2 separate regions of the Homo sapiens genome follow, and region 2 is linked to region 1. Evidence: fine-mapped expression QTL. A gene starts in region 1. The other region holds a variant in brackets. All regions are shown on one strand. Distances are between the middles of the regions. Region 1 holds the start of HMGB1 (high mobility group box 1). Region 2 has its middle 13 kb from the start of UBE2L5.

Region 1 (8,316 bases):
GGGCAATAGAGCAAGCCTCTGTCTCAAAAAATTAATTAATTAATTAAATATAAATAAATAAATAAATAAATAAGTCTGGGCATGGTGGCTCACACCTGTAATCCCAGCACTTTGGAAGGCTGAGGCGGGTGGATCACCTAAGGTCAGGGGTTCAAGACCAGCCTGGCCAACATGGTGAAACCCCGTCTCTACTAAAAATACAAAAATTAGTTGGGCATGGTGGCACACGCCTGTGATCCTAGCTACTTGGGAGGCTGAGGCAGGAGAATCACTTGAACCCAGGAGGCAGAGGTTGCAGTGAGCCAAGATCGCGCCACCGCCCTCCAACCTGGACGACTGAGTGAGACTCCGTCTCAAAAAAAAAATAAAATAAAACAATAAAAAGCCAATTGGTAACAATCTTTGGGCAGACAATCTTGCAGTTTTCTGTGATAAAGTCTAATTTGGCTTGCCATAGTTCACTGTATCCACCAAGGAATAATCTTGGCCTAATTGGAAACTGGTAAATGCTTAGACTATATGTGTTTCTCTACATTTGAGATCCCCTCTCACCCTCCAACTGTGCCTCTCCCTTTTTAAGTTACGTCAATGAGATGTAATTGGCACCTATCCTCAATCTTAGTATCCTAACATTCGCTTCTTATTCTATTTTCCTGCCTTTTGATTTAGAAAGACCTAAATGCTTTTAGATCTAAAGATAGAAGAGGAAGGTTAAAACAATAATTTGCAATACGTACTCCTTCAGCTATTAATTCATTTATGCAACGGGCTTTATTTAATGCCTGCTGTATGCCAAGTACTCTGCTAGGTGCTTGGGATTCAAAGATAGGGGCTGGGCTCAGTTTCTCATGCCTGTAATCCCAACATTTTGGGAGGCCAAGGAGTTTGAGACCAGCCTGAGCAACATGGAGAGACCCTGCCTCTACAAAAAAAAAAATAGCCAGCACCAGGCACGGTGGTTCATGCCTGTCATCCCAGCACTTTGGGAGGCCAAGGTAGGAGGATCACTTGAGCCCATGAGTTTGAGACCAGCCTGGGCAACATGGAGAGACCTTGTCTCTACAAAAAATAAAAATAAAAATAAATTAGCTGGGGCTGGGCACAGTGGCTCATGCCTGTAATCCCAGCACTTTGGGAGGCCAAGGCGGGCGGATCACAAGGTCAAGAGATGGAGACCATCCTGGCCAACATGGTGAAACCCCGTCTCCACTAAAAATACAAAAATAAGCTGGGCGTGGTGGCACGCGCCTGTAGTCACAGCTGTTCGGGAGGCTGAGGCAGGGGAATCACTTAAACCAAGGACGCAGAGGTTGCAGTGATCCAAGATTGTGCCACTGCACTCCAGCCTGGTGACAGAGGGAGACTCCGTCTCAAATAAATAAATAAATAGGCCGGGCGTGGTGGCACTCACCTGTAGTCCTGGCTTCCCAGGAAGCTGAGGTGGGAGGATGGCTTCAGTCCCAGAAAGTCAAGGCTGCAGTGAGCCGTGATCATGCCACTGCACTGCACTCCAGCCTGGGCAATACAGCCATAACCTGTCTTAGAAAAAAAAAAACAAAAAATACAGAGTTCTTGCCTTTAAGGTGTACAGTGCAGTGGGACAAGCAGATACAACTGGAGAACCACAATTGTGATTGCAGTAATTAATATACACAATATTACAGGATTACAGAAAAGAGGTACGTCCCCTATCCTAGAGGGGATGGAGGAAGGGCATAAAGTACATTAATGACGATCTGTAATTCAGTTGTTTAAATTGAGCATGGGAGAGGGTGTTCAGGCCTCTTCGACTGGATGACTTTGTAATTTGGGATAAAACACCCAATAACTTGGCCGGGTACCAGGGCTCATGCCTGTAATCTTAGCACTTTGGGAGGCTGAGGCGGGCAGATCACTTGAGGTCAGGAGTTCAAGACCAGCCTGACCAACATGGTGAAACCGTCTCTATCAAAAATTCAAAATTACCCAGGCATGGTGGTGCATGCCTGTAGTCCCAGCTACTCGGGAGGCTGAGGCACGAGAATTGCTTGAACCCGGGAGGTGGAGGTTGCAGTGAGCTGAGATCGTGCCATTCCACTCCAGCCTGGGCAACAGAGCAAGACCCTGTCTCATAAAAACAAAAACAACAACAACAAAAACCCAATAACTGTAAAGTAAAATATGTCAACTTGTGACTAAGGATTCATGTGGAAGAAGAAAAGCGTCTAATATCATAAAGGAACATCAAGATTGTGGGGTTAGAGCTAGAAGATGTTGGTTTTATTTTAAAATTTCTGTCTTTTTTATGTTCTTCCCTGCCTATATCACAGAAAATCAAATATAAGAAATGAATTGCCTGCAAGTGGTGGTTTTTAAACTCTTCTCTCTGATATAGTCTCTGTTAAACTTGGGAATAAATAAAGGTACCATCACCAGACTAGGGGAAGATTAGCATTGTTTGAGGTTAGGATTTAAAAAAAACAAAACAAGGCCGGGTGCAGTGGCTCATGCCTGTAATCCCAGCACTTTGGGAGGCCAAGGTGGGCGGATCACCTGAGGTCAAGAGTTCAAGACCAGCCTGACCAACATGGTGAAACCCCGTCTCTACTAAAAATAAAAAATTAGCCGGGCATGGTGGCGCATGCCTGTATTCCCAGCTACTCGGGAGGCTGAGGCAGAAGAATCGATTGAACCAGGAGGTGTAGGTTGCAGTGAGCCGAGATTGCACCGCTGCACTCCAGCCTGGGCAGTAAGAGCAAAACTCTGTCTCAAACAACAACAATAACAACAACAACAAAAAATTCACTAGATTTGCAATCACTGCCTTCATATAAGATTAAAATATGAAGAAAAACTCAAGGTTAACTGCACTTGAGGTTTTCTAAATTATGGGATTGAAGGGGTCTATATAATTTTAAACATTAAAAAAAGTTTAATCTTTACAACCCTGTGGTCCCCTCCATTTTATAGCTGAGAGAATTGAAGCATGGAGGTTTAAAAACATGCCCAAGATCATACAGCTAGTAAGTAGCAGAGCTGGGATTTGCACCCAAGTCTATTCAATTCCAGTGCCTATTACTCACCATATCATCCTGTCAAAATAGAAACCTTGTGTGGGCCCATTGCTCTCAAGATGTCCTGTGGCCATAAATGCACCCTGGCAGGAGCAAGCTGGTATAGACAACCAGTAAAGTGTATGGCCGTGCCAGTACAAAGCCAACACTGCTCCTGGAAAATATTGATAGTGCCATATTCAACTAATCGTCAAATTTTAATATCATCGATGCCACTGAAAGTATCTTAATCATTCTCATGAATATTTTGTAATATGAGACATTGAGAAGATAAGACAGTATTGAAATAAATATCTAGATTTAAAAAATATAAAATTTGAATGATTAGTAGAGGGAAGCAGAGGATAGTAAATATGTGTGAAAATAATAACATAAAAGTTAACTTTAGATATATTATCTTTAAACACTGCATGTGCAGTATACCAATTTATATCCTCTTTAATATTATAGTCTTTTTCATGTGCATGTGTGATATATTGTCCATTCACCAAGACTATAATCCCTGAGTCCGATAGTGTATTTTCTTTTAAAAAGAAATCAACATTAAAACAGGAAAGATTATCTAAGCTTACTCTCAAGTAGTTTAATACATTTGAGGAAATAAATTAGGTTATGGATGCTTATAAGCGATATAAAAAATCAAATTAACACGATGTAGGTGATTTATTCCAAATTTGATCTGTTACATTTGGAGGAATTGGTTGTTGGATTTAGAAGTGTACAAAATACCATTAGAGAGTGAAAAAAAAGGGAAGTCTGTTATAACTGAATAGGGGCGTGGTCTGCTCAGGCTAAAAGGAATAGATAGTAGTTTCATAAAGGACTGATATAACTGTAGAGTCTTCAGAACTGGCCACTACAGCCAGCACATTTTCTCTACAGACGTAAGTATGTCTATTAATACCAGCCAGCTTGGTGAGTTAGAGAAACCACAGCCTGTGGATTTGGGCACATGCACTCTCTGCCTGCATCTAATCCTTCGGGTAACCATATACCTACAACTCCTGTAATCCTAGAGCAGTTACATGGATGCACTAAGTGGTGTGATGGGAGGGAAAGATAGCATCACAAGGATTCGTTTGATTGTAACAGTAATCCACACCAAGTCAAATAAAATAGCCAAACAGTTTAGAATGTGGTCTCTAATGAATTTGCTAATTCTACCAGGGCCTCACAAACATTTCCTGCTAGAGTACCCCATATCAAACCAAGTGGCTGTTCTTTAATTACATGGAATAATTATTTGATTTCCAGGAAGTTAAGACAGTGCTTTGTATTTAAATAAAAAGTTCTAGACATGCTGTGAAACTCGATCAAACCAAGAAAAAGGGTGAAACTGAATGCCTGCTCACTGACTCAAGATTTCAGCTGCTCAGCGAGCCTGACGTGACGGCTTATGAGCCCAGAAAAGGGGTATTTTAAACCCGGCTGGCTGGATCATGTCACTTTCTTATAGAAGCCCTGCCTTTCCAGAGACCTAAAGTGTAACGCAATCAGAGACCTTTGAGGGGCTCGAGGCTCGGCGGCTTCCGCCCCTCAGCACCAGCAGAGACCCCAGTTTTCAGGGGACATGATCCCATAGTGTCGCCCTCACTTTTGAAGGGCCATTAAAAGCCTGGGGCCTCTTATCTCAACGGCTTTGGGCGTGAATGTGGGGCAAGAAGGGGGGGGGAGACCTGTGGGTGTCTCTTTTGCCTGAGGAGTTGGAGACACTTGTGGAAAAGTCAGGCCCTTTTCGCTCCGGCGGCCGCTCCGGTGTGGGGCTGGCTTGGGTTAGACACATGCACACATACACCATAGAGCTCTGCTTTCCCGTAGCAGCTGCTGCCTCTGCCTCTGCCTCTCCCGCCTCAGCCTCTTTGCCCGGCATACACACACATTCAGATTTGCGCGCTGTTTCAATCCTTGATGACGTGTCCCCGGAGACAGCCAATAGCAAACGGGCTCTGGTCAGGACAATGGGAGGTATCGGGCCAATGAGCGAGCCCCGTGAGTTGGCGGTAGCCAATAGGAGCCGCGCTGGCTGGAGAGTAATGTTACAGAGCGGAGAGAGTGAGGAGGCTGCGTCTGGCTCCCGCTCTCACAGCCATTGCAGTACATTGAGCTCCATAGAGACAGCACCGGGGCAAGTGAGAGCCGGACGGGCACTGGGCGACTCTGTGCCTCGCTGAGGGTGAGTCTGGGGCAGCGCCGCGGCGGGGAGAGCGCCTCCGGCAGCTCCCCAGCCCGCGCGGCGGCCGGATCCCCGCGGCCGGGAGCCGGCGGGTCAGGATCCACACAAAGGCAAATGAGGGGGGACCGTGGGGGGAACTGCGCACGGAGCGAGCCTCTGCCCGGGCGCCGGGAACGCTGCCCCGCGCCGGTGCCCCGGCCCTCAGGCAGCCTGAGGCGCCGGGAGCCCCGCGCCCCGCGAGTTTCCACCCCCGGCGGCGTCCGCGCTGACTGGCGCAAAAAAAAAAATTTTTTTTTTAATTAAAAAAATTTTGAACGTGTTTTGGGCCCTCGGGCCGGGCGTTCGGGCGGGCGGCGTGCGCGGAGCGCGGCCGGGGCGGCGGGGCCGGCGCGGCTCGGCGGCGGCGGCGGGAGGGCAGCGGCGGCGCTTCCCCGGGCTGCATTGGCCGCCGCCGCAGCGAGCCGGGCGCTGGCGGGGAGCGCGGCCAGCCGGGCGGGCGGCGGGGCGGGCGGGGCGCCGCGGCGGGCGAGGGCGGCGCGGGGGCCTGGGGGCGGCAGTGCGGGCCCGGCCGGCCTCGGCCCGGTCGCGGCGGCGGCGGCGGCCGGGCGGCGGGGGGAGCGGCGCCGCTGCGCTCGCTGGAACATGGCTGACTCGGGCCCGGCGCTGCTGGCTGGAGAGAAAACAAGGCGGGCGGGCGGGGGAGCTGGGCGCAGCAGTTCCGAGGCAACTTTTTTTTTCCTCTCTCTTTTCACAGCCCCGCGTTCTCCGTGCGGGGGCGGCGGGGCGCGCGGCCCGCGCGGAGGGAGACGGGGAGTGGCGGGCGGGTGGGCCCTCGGGCGGCCCCCACCGCGGCGGGGGGAGGGGAGCGGCGCGGAGGGGAGGGCCCGGCCGCGCGCCCCCCGCCCCTCCCCCGGCCGTAATGGCCGAGTGTGTGCGCCAGAGCGCGGCTCGCACCCCGCCCGCCGCCGCCGCCGCGCCCGCACCCTCGCACTCACACACTCTCTCATACACACACACACACACACACACACACAAAGGGAAGGAGCCATATTCTCGCTCGCGCTCGCCCTCGCGGCGGCGGCGGCGCAGGCGGAGAAGACGCGCAGCGGCCATTCCGTGCGCGCCGGCCCCGGCGGCCGCGGGCGGAGCCAGCCCCCATTTCGAGCGGGGCTTCTCCCTGCGCCGAGCCTGACAAAATGGGGGCGGCGGCGGCGCGGGCCTGCAGGGCCTGCCGGGCGCACGTGGCGGCCTCGGGCCTGGGAGCCGGGCCGCGTCCTCTCTCCTCGGCCGCGCGGCCACCGGCGAAGTTCTAGGGGCGGGGGGCTCGCCCCGCGCAGGAGTCACCCCAACTTTCACGGCTCCAAAAAATACTTCCCGAGTTGGGGGAGGGGGCCACCGAGCCACGAGCAGGAGTGGCTTTTGTCCCTCATCCTTGTTTACTCGGAGAAACTTCAGACCGGACGTGTTTAGTCAGAACAGAAATACATCTCAGGGCCAAACCGATAGGAAACGAGGCTGCCTCGCGGTGGCACCGCCACCCCCCAACCGGGTTCCGAGCACCGGAGCTGGCTGCTGCTCCCTCTTTGGAGCAAAGTTTTATGCAAAGAGGGTGTTTTTTGAAACTTTCGGTGCACGGTGATTTTTTTTTTTTAAGGTCCCATAATTAGGAAGAGTCGACTCGCTTAGGCCCTTGTTTATTCCCTATCTAGTGCAAAGCCACGAATTGGCAGCATGTTTTCTGACCTTTGGTTTGGTTGGTTTAAAATGGTGTTCTAGATTTTAAAATCGTTTAAGTGACCAGTTAGATACTCATTCAGAGCAGACTCGGGCGGATAGATAGGGAATACTGTATGGGTATATCTTTGTGTCTAGACTTTTTGAGATCGCCCTGAAGGACTGTTTTTGTTTTGTTTTGTTTGCTTGGCATAGCCCCTTCAAGGAATTTAATCTCTCGGCCATATTCTTGTCTGATTTTACGGAGGTTGATGTCGCTACTGTGTTAAATAACCAGTACTTTGGTTTTCATTCCCTTACTAAGTACTTTAAGGTCTTATATGTCATAATTTTATTGCTAACATCAAATATTTATTTTATTTTTTAGAAAAATAACTAAACATGGGCAAAGGAGATCCTAAGAAGCCGAGAGGCAAAATGTCATCATATGCATTTTTTGTGCAAACTTGTCGGGAGGAGCATAAGAAGAAGCACCCAGATGCTTCAGTCAACTTCTCAGAGTTTTCTAAGAAGTGCTCAGAGAGGTGGAAGGTAAGAGGGCTTAAAACATGCTAACAAGGTAATTAAAAGACAGTTTCCAATTGAGGATGCAAAAAAAAGCCTAGTTGGCATTCTCGTAGTGGGACGCTATTACATAGCAAAAGACATTGGTTTTGAGGATAATTTACTTAAATGTTACAACTTAAACTTACAAATAATTATTTTGTAGACCATGTCTGCTAAAGAGAAAGGAAAATTTGAAGATATGGCAAAAGCGGACAAGGCCCGTTATGAAAGAGAAATGAAAACCTATATCCCTCCCAAAGGGGAGACAAAAAAGAAGTTCAAGGATCCCAATGCACCCAAGAGGCCTCCGTGAGTATCTTGCCTGTTTTTACTTCCCAGACACGTTTTACAGTAGAATCTGAGAGAAATTTAGCAAGCTACTTTGTCAGTTTAGAGTGTAAATGTACAATCAAAGTTTCTTAGCTAATACTTGTTCATATTGGTTATATTTAAATAGTATAAAATTCCTGTTGGGTGGGAGTGTTCCCAGAGCATTTGAATTAGACATTTGGTCTCCTTTGCCCAGTGTATCTCCTTTTGATCTTTTTATTTCTTGAAAAATACTATCCCTTTGAAATAGTGTAATTGTAGAATGTTCATCTAGGGTTCTAGCTAGTATAAATTAAATAGTTGTAAATTAAGCTTTGGTTGTGAAGGATATTTAGTATATTATAGTATTTGCACCCTGTCCAATGCATCACAGAAATTCACAGGCAGCTTTAAATAGCAATGCAGTGTACACTTGATAGTATTTGTTTTTGTGATCTGTTAACTTAAAATCCTAAAATTAATTTTTTTTTTAGTTCGGCC
Region 2 (8,336 bases), 31 kb after region 1:
TTAATGTACCCAACCATGCTACATTCCCACTGGAGAAAGCAAGTTAATGGCACTTCCAGACAAATTACGCACTATATCCTTAGATCATGTAGGTCAAGGGTCAGCAAACCTTTCCTGTAAGGTTCATTTTCAGTCTGCAACTTAGGTCTTCAGTGTTGTGAGTTGTAGGGTCTCTATCACAACTGCTCAGCTCCACCATAGTAGTTGGAAGCAGCCATCGGCAATCCAAAAAGAGCGAGCCTGGCTGTACTCTAAGCAACTTACAGTTACCCAAACTGGAGGCGGGCTGGATTTGGCCCACAGATAGTTTGCCAAACCCTGATGTATGTTATTAATAAAGAATCCTTTGCATAGATAATGTATTTTTGAAGAAGAATTATTTCTGGAAGTTACTTTAATTGGGGTACGGCCAGTGGGCAGTTAGGAGCTCTCTTTTGAACTAACCTATTCATCAATTAGCCATTCCTACTATTTTCTTTTCTTTTTTTTTTGAGACAGGGTCTCACTTTATCACCCAAGCTGGAGTGCAGTGGCACCATTACCACCCACTGCAGGCTTGACCTCCCAGGCTCAAGCGATTCTCCTGTCTCAGCCTCCCAAGTAGCTGGGACTACAGGTGCCAGCCACCACACCTAGCTACTTTATATATTTTTTGTAGAGACAGGGTTTCACCATGTTGCCCAGCCTGGTCTCTAACTCCCAGACTCAAGCAATCCGCCCACCTTGGCCTTCCAAATTGCTGGTATTACAGGTGTGAGCCACCACACCCAGCCCTAATTCCTACTATTTTCTACATTTGGACTATGAAATTTGACTTTTCTAATTCTACTGCGAAATCACATAGTGAGTGTGTAAAAGTGATGGTGTGTGATCCTCTTCACAAATTTCTATTCCCTTCCTTATCTGTTGGGAGACATTAGACACATTCATTTGAAAAATTGTTCTTTTCAACCAGTTCTTTTATTTCCATACACCATTTAAAAAGTAATTCCCACTGCATCTACACAAAGTTAAAATATATTAATTTGCTTCAATATAGCATTTTCTTTATTGTGTGCCAGAAAAATATCACGGAAATTTTCCTGTACTGAAAAGCAAATACCGCTTTTCCACTTGGGCAGCCTCTCCCATCCAATCGTCATTCACATACACCTTCATCATTCACTGGGTTCTCACTGAGCACTCCCTCTTAGCCATGCAGGTGCTCACAGATGTACCCCAAAGAGGAGCGGCGTGCAAAGCAACATGTCTTCAAATTCAAAAGTGACAGTGGGTTTGAGGACAAGAGAGGGGAAGAAATCCAAATTTAGAGGAAGAGTAGCAAGTGGTAAGGCTTGGGCCCAGGAATGAGCCAAGCGCAGGCGGGGAGAATAAATAGATTAGCTCAGCAACAGAAGAGGAGCCCAGCCTTTGGAGACTACAAAGGGTCATAAGGAGGACACAATTATTAAAGTAATGCAGAAGCCACTGTAATTTCTCAAGCAGGAAACTGACAGTGACAAAAATGGTGCTTGGCCAGGTGCAGTGGCTCATATCTGTGATAAGTTAGCCAGGTGTGGTGGCTCACACCTGTAGTCGGGAGGCAGAGGTGGGAAGATTGCCTGAGACCAGGAGCTCAAGGCTGTAGTGAGCTGAGTTCATACCACTGTACTCTAGCCTGGGCAACAGAGCAAGACCCTGTCTCAAAAAAAAAAAAAAAAAAAAAAAAAAAAGCCAGGTGCTGTGGCTCATGTCTGTAGTCCCAGAACTTTGGGAGGCCAAGGCAGATTGATCGCTTGAGCCCACAAGTTCAAGACCATCCTGAGCAACATGCCAAAACCTCATCTCTACAAAACATAAAAAAAAAAAACATTAGCCAGGCGTGGTGGTGTGCCTATAGTCCCAGCTACTCAGGAGGCTTAGGTGGGAGAATCCTTTGAGCCTGAGGTGAAGGCTGCAGTGAACTGAGATCGTGCCACTGCACTCCAGCCTGGGCAACACAGTGACACCCTGTCTCAAACAATAAAAAATAAATGGTGCTTTAGGCAGCGTGTTCTGTGGTTTCCCGGCCATTGGAGGTAAAACACTCACTGGGGCTGGGTCACCATGGGGCAGGCAAAATGGACATTAAGGTCAGGGTCCAAGAAGATTCCACAGGAATCAAGAGGATGATGGTAGTGTCACCAATTCCAGAACAATTGAAAAGATGTGGTGCTCATTTGAGAAAATGGTTTGCATCTTTAGCCTGTGCACATGTGATTTTAGGCTAATTTTCACACGGCCGTCGAGAGACTTGAAAACCTCTAGGTATTTTCATGCTCCTAGAGTGAGGATGTTCTATGGGTGGGTAGAGGTGGGTTATCTGTGTGGGTTTTATGCACTCTTCTTTACAGAGAGGTGGTAGCTGAACCAGGTAAGGAGCTTTCTGTCCTTTCTGACATCTGTTTGCTTAATGATCTCTGCCTACACCCTGTAGAGTTTGAAAAGCAACGTACTAGAACCATGTTTCTTCTGACATACGCTGGCTGTACAATGCACACGCTTTCCGACAATATCCACATCAGACACCTCTCTGCTGATTCTAGGCTCCCAGACTGTGGCTTTTGATTTATCCTGTGAATTGCCTGAATTGCCAGCTCTGGCTAGGCTGGCTTCTGAGCACAGCTATCATCACTCAGGCTGCTGTTCTGTCGCGGCTCAGTCTGTTTTGTCCGTACCACACTGGTTGTCGAACTGTTGATTGGTAAGCTTGCACTTGACTTATGAGAACCAGCTCAAACTGCTTATGACCCTAAAAGAGATTCACTTAAAGAAGGTGCTATGACAATTAAGAATACATCAACACACACTTAGATTAAATATTTAGATAATGCATGCATTAAGCAAAGCACTGTTTTAGTTTGATGATAAAATCAGGATCAGCTAGTCACCTGATAACATTTCATAGCTGCTTAATTTATCAATGAAACTCACTGACTTCAATTTTCCAACCCTACACTTGTAAGAAAGACATTAATATTAAAGATTGTAGTGATACCCAGTAGAGGAGAAGACAGTAATAAATAATTAGCTCCTTTATGCTTCAGTTGCTTTCCTAAATTACTTATGAAACAGCAACAAATACTACTAGTGCCATTGGGAAAGCTGACATTATCCATTTCTTATTTAACAATGGAGTCATTAAAAAAGGAAAGAAAGAGGAAAAGGAGGCTGGGAGTGAGAAACTCATTGTATTTAATACAGATTCTGGTATCTTTTTTTTTTTTTGAGATGAAGTCTCATTCACTTACCCAGGCTGGAGTGCAGTGGTGCAATCTCCACTCACTGCAACCTCTGCTTCCCAGGTTCAAGCCATTCTCCGGCCTCAGCCTCCCAAGCAGCTGGGATTACAGGTGCCCACCACCATGCCTGGCTAATTTTTGTATTTTTTTAGAAGAGACGGGGTTTCAGCATGTTGGCCAGGCTGGTCTGGAACTCCTGACCTCAGGTGATTGGCCCACCTTGGCTTCCCAAAGTGCTGGTACTACAGGCGTGAGCCACCGTGCCCGGCCAGATTCTGGTATTTTGAGAGGCTGCATGTTTGGCTGAAGGATATCAAAAGCTACTAAGCAAGAGAATGGCATTTGTTGTTACCAAAGTAAACAATTTTTATTTCTGTTTTCCATATGCAGGCATATGAGTAAAGAAAACATGCCACATTGTATTTGTACATTTTGGGAAAACATGTAGCCTTATAATCATCATAATATGAAACACATCCCTTATGCGATTAAGTGTTTCATCACTGCTCTGGGAGTTCTGCATTAACAAAGGAGATGGAAATTAGTGGTTCTGAGATATTTCAGTTCCAGTATGAATTCTGATACGGTCCAGATTGAAAGAACCACACCTAAATTGTCTCAGTTATGTGAAAATTTATTTTATAACTGTTTCCAGAGCATGTGGTTCAAATATCACAACTTATCAAATATAAACCTCATTGCCAGGAAATTTTCCTTGAGGCAGACTGAGATTTTTTAAATTTTCTGATCTCTCTA[G/A]GGATGGCAATGTCTCCCGTCCTCCATAATCTCCAAGATTTTTTCTCTCTGTCCAAAAGAGGAAAGCTTTGGTGGAGACAAAATCCCTGTCCCCAGATAAACATGCTCAAATGAATACCTTTCCAGAAAGTTCAGATAAATTGAGAGTTCAGATCAAAAGTTCAGATAAATTGAGAGTATTTTTTAAGAATTGTCATTTCCTTACACTCTGTTAACAGTTGTGCCTGCTAGATAAAATGTTTACAATAAACTTTGCAAATCTCCATATTTTGAGAAATCATTTGTGGCATTAAGACTGGAAATAGAAGAAATAAATGAAAATAAGAAATCATTGATAATGTCTATGAAGTCCTCAACAGTGCTTGGCACACAGTATGTGCTCAACAAATATTATAGGTGTTAGCATCATCATATTATTTGGGAATATTTGTATTTAATGAAAAATGGTACATATATATATTTATAAATGTGAACACATATTTATGTACAGAATAGGTATATATAAACAGAAAAGAGTCTGTCTTTCCTAATTGCCAGAAGTAATCTTTGCTTGTGAATTAATTCATTGCTGTTTGCTATTATTTGTTCTTCTGTACAGAGAGTTGGAAAGGAGAGCATACTAGCAGAGGTGTGAAATGGCTCATTTATTTGCATTAATTATTAACTTTGAAGCCTCACCAAAATTGTTCTAATCTTAGCATTGAAGCAACTTTGGTCATTGATGAAATATCTAATCAATGAATTAAAGTCACAAAACATGCTAAGAATGCCACTGTTACCACGTAATAGTGGAATGTGCGAAGGGACTTCAGACATCATCCAGCATAATGCCTTCATTTCACAAGTGAGTAACCTGGGGCCCGAACAAGTAAGGGGACATGTCAGATGGGTCATTCCAAATCTGGACTTTTGCCTCCATATCCAGGCTCTGGCCAGCCACATTATCTGTAAGGCTTTTTACCCTTCTATAAAAACTAAGTCTGGCCAGGTACGGTGACTCACGTCTGTAATCTCGGCACTTTGGGAGGCCGAGGCAGGTGGATCACTTGAGGTCAGGAGATTGAGACCAGCCTGGCCAACATGGCGAAACCCCATCTCTACTAAAAATAGAAAAATTAGCCGGCATGGTGGCTCACGCCTGTAATCCCAGCTACTCAGGAGGCTGAGGCAAGAGAATCACTTGAACTTGGGAGGAGGAGGTTGCAGTGAGCCAAGATCGTGCCAGTGCACTCCAGCCTGGGTGACAGAGCGAGACTCAGTCTTGAAAAACAAACAAACAAACAACAACAACAACCAAAAAAAACCCAAAAAACACAACCAAGCCAAGTCTATCTGATCATGTGAGTCTGTGTGACTCCATTACAGTTGGATTGGCCTCTTGGGGGTGATGGCCTCAAATACTTCTCAAATACAGAGAAAACAAGTTGATTCTAAAATGATGGAAAAGAAGGGGCCCCCACAAGCATCTCTCCTTCACCTCACCTTTTCTGCTTTGCTGTTGTGGATATCCAAAAATATATGGGTGTTCAGGTATATTACCTCACTTTAGGATTAAAAAGTCCATTGTTTTACTTTTGTTTTCTGAGTTTTTTGTTGGTGGTGGTGGTGGTGGTGGTGTTGGTGGTGGTGGTGGTGGTTTTTGGTTTTGTTTTTTTCCAGAGACAAGGTCTTTCTCTTTTGCCTAGGCTGGAGTGCAGTGGTGCCATCATAGTTCAATGCAGCCTCAAATTCCTGGGCTCCAGTGATGCTCCTGCCTTAGCCTCCTGAGTAGCTGGGACTATAGGCATGCACCACTATGCCTCACTAACTTTTTTTTTAGTTTTTTTAGAGATGGGGTTTTGCTATCTTGTCCAGGCTGGTCTTGAACTCCTGGCCTCAAGTGGTCCTCCCACCTCAGCCTCCCAAAGTGCTGGGATTACAGGTGTAAGCCACTGCACCTGGCCACCAAGTATATTTTTAAATGAGGTTTATGAAATAGGTCACGGAATACTTTCTCATATCTAAACATAGACTTTTTAGTGATAATTGGTTATTGATGAGTTCAAGAAACCACTTGTCTCTGATTCTCATGTTCTAAATAGGTGGTCCAGTTGTGCAAATTAGCCTGAAACTACATATGCACAGCCTAAAATGGGGTAAGGGTTGGAGGCTCCTCAAAGGCAGGGTGTAGGTCCCCTTTACAGTTGTATCTCCAGACCCAAGTGCAGCTTTTGGTCATTGGACGTGTTCAATAAAGTTTGTTGGACAACTTAATGAAAGAGTAAACAAATTAAATTTCTGGTTCTCCAAGCTTTTCTTTTTTGTTTTTTTTTTTTTTTTTTTTTTTTTTTGAGACAGAGTCTTGCTCTGTCGCCCAGGCTGGAGTGCAGTGGCGCGATCTCGGTTCACTGCAACCTCTGCCTCCCCAGTTCAAGTAATTCTCCTGCCTCAGCCTCCTGAGTAGCTGGGACTACAGGTGCCTACCACCGAGTCCAGCTAATTATTGTATTTTTAGTAGAGACGGGGTTTCACCATCTTGGCCAGGCTGGTCTTGAACTACTGACCTCGTGATCCACCCGCCTCAGACTTCCAAAGTGCTGGGATTACAGGCATGAGCCACCGCACCTGGCCCCTCCAAGCTTTTCATGGTAATAGAAGAGTATCTTAATACAGAAACAGGCATTTGTGTTTTCTTTTTTCTTCTTTTTTTTTCTTTTTTGAGATAAGGTCTTGCTCTGTCATCCAGGCTGGGATATAGTGGCATAATCATAGTTTGCTGCAGTCTCAACCTCCCAGGCTCAAGTGATCTTCTCACTTCAGCCTCTCAAGCAGCTGGGATCACAGGCATGTGCCACCATAGTTGGCAAACTTTTTTTTGTATTTTTTGTAGAGATGAGGGTCTCACTATGTTGCCCAGGCTGGTCTTAAACTCCTATGCTTAAGTGATCCATCCACCTTGGCTTCTCAACGTGCTGGGATTACAGACATTTGTGTTTTATGAAGTTGTGTCTCTCAAACTTGATGGTCTAGTGGCTACTTTGGTGAGTCCGAAAAATCAACCAAACAAAAAAACAGAAAACAAAAAACCCTTTTAAATTTTTCTAACCTTTTCTAATAGTCACTGCATAGCATCTTCCCATGTGTAAAGGCATATCCTTTGAACTTTAGAGGGTGACGTGGGCATGAGTCTCTGTACCTCATGGATTCCTCAGAATTCTATGTGATTCTGAAATGTTGACCTATTTCTCTTGCTAGTGAGCAAGAGAAATACTGAGGCCAGTAAACTAGCTGTCTTAGCGCCTCACCTCTTCTGGACATATCGCTGGTAAAGCCCATTTCCAAGTGTCTTGCACTAGTGGAGATGTGTGTTGTATGGTGTCCTCATCAAGAAAAAACACATGTTTGCTTGCTGAAATTTTGGACAATTTCCTTCTAACAAAGGCCCTTGCCTGCCTGTCTTTAAAATCCCAGCCTGGGGTAGGCACGGTGGCTCACATCTGTAATCCTAGTGCTTTGGGAGGCTGAGGCGGGATGATCACTTGAGGCCGAAGTTCGAGACCAGCCTGGACAATATAGTGAGACCCTGTCTCTACAAAAAATGTTTAAAAGAAATTAGCCAGCATGGTGGCACATGCCTGTAGTCCCAGCTACTCTGGAGGCTGAGGCAGAAGGATCATTTGAACCCAGGAGCTCAAGGTTACAGTGAGCTATGATCATGCCACTGCACTGCACTCCAGCCTGGGCAACAGAGACCCTGCCTGTAAAATAAATAAATAAATAATAAAAAAAATTAGAATCCCAGCCTGACTTATGACTAAATTTGTTCACTAAGTGGTGAGAGATGCTAACATTAAGTGCTGGTATATATGCTGCATCAGAGATGGCCCTTCCAACAACCATGTGTTGTGAAACTATTTTATGCATGTGGTCCACTAGTAGGAAAAGGCATTCTAGTCAGTACTGTCAAGAGTTCAGGCAGAGGCATGACATATGTATATTTTAAAGAAGGAGCAACAGTTGGGAATGGACAAAAGACACAGCCAGGGCACCCTCAGAAGCCTGTAATTATACTAGTAACCAAACCTTCCCATAGGAGAGCTCATTTTCAGAGAGGTGAAACTGCATCTGAAGACATGTTTCTGAGACATGAATACTGAGATTGCTTTACCTAGGCATTGGCAATAAAACATCTTTATGTTGATCACATCTTTCCCAGAGACATCAGAAAAGAACATGACTCACCTCATTGGTCTAAAAAGGACACTCTGCTTCCCTTCTTAAAACCTTCCATGGTGTTGTTCCACTTTTGGTTTTGAATTATAGAAAGATGAATATTTTTGT

Evidence for each region. PIP is the estimated chance that this variant, and not a neighbour inherited with it, causes the effect.
Region 2: its variant is fine-mapped to the expression of HMGB1 in left ventricle (GTEx, PIP 0.97).

Annotation. Positions count from the first base shown.
Region 1 is chr13:30,462,706-30,471,021 of GRCh38, reverse strand. HMGB1 (high mobility group box 1) reads left to right here and starts at 5,086. Exons shown (of 5, transcript NM_002128.7): 1 at 5,086-5,226; 2 at 7,328-7,491; 3 at 7,670-7,815; 4 at 8,310-8,316. The coding sequence starts at 7,342. RefSeq lists enhancers at 4,127-4,902, 4,903-5,678 and silencers at 5,114-5,423, 6,023-6,662.
Region 2 is chr13:30,431,662-30,439,997 of GRCh38, reverse strand. No RefSeq gene overlaps it. Among named protein-coding and RNA genes, the nearest start is that of UBE2L5, 13 kb to the right of the region's middle. The variant G/A (reference allele first, on the strand shown) is at 4,017.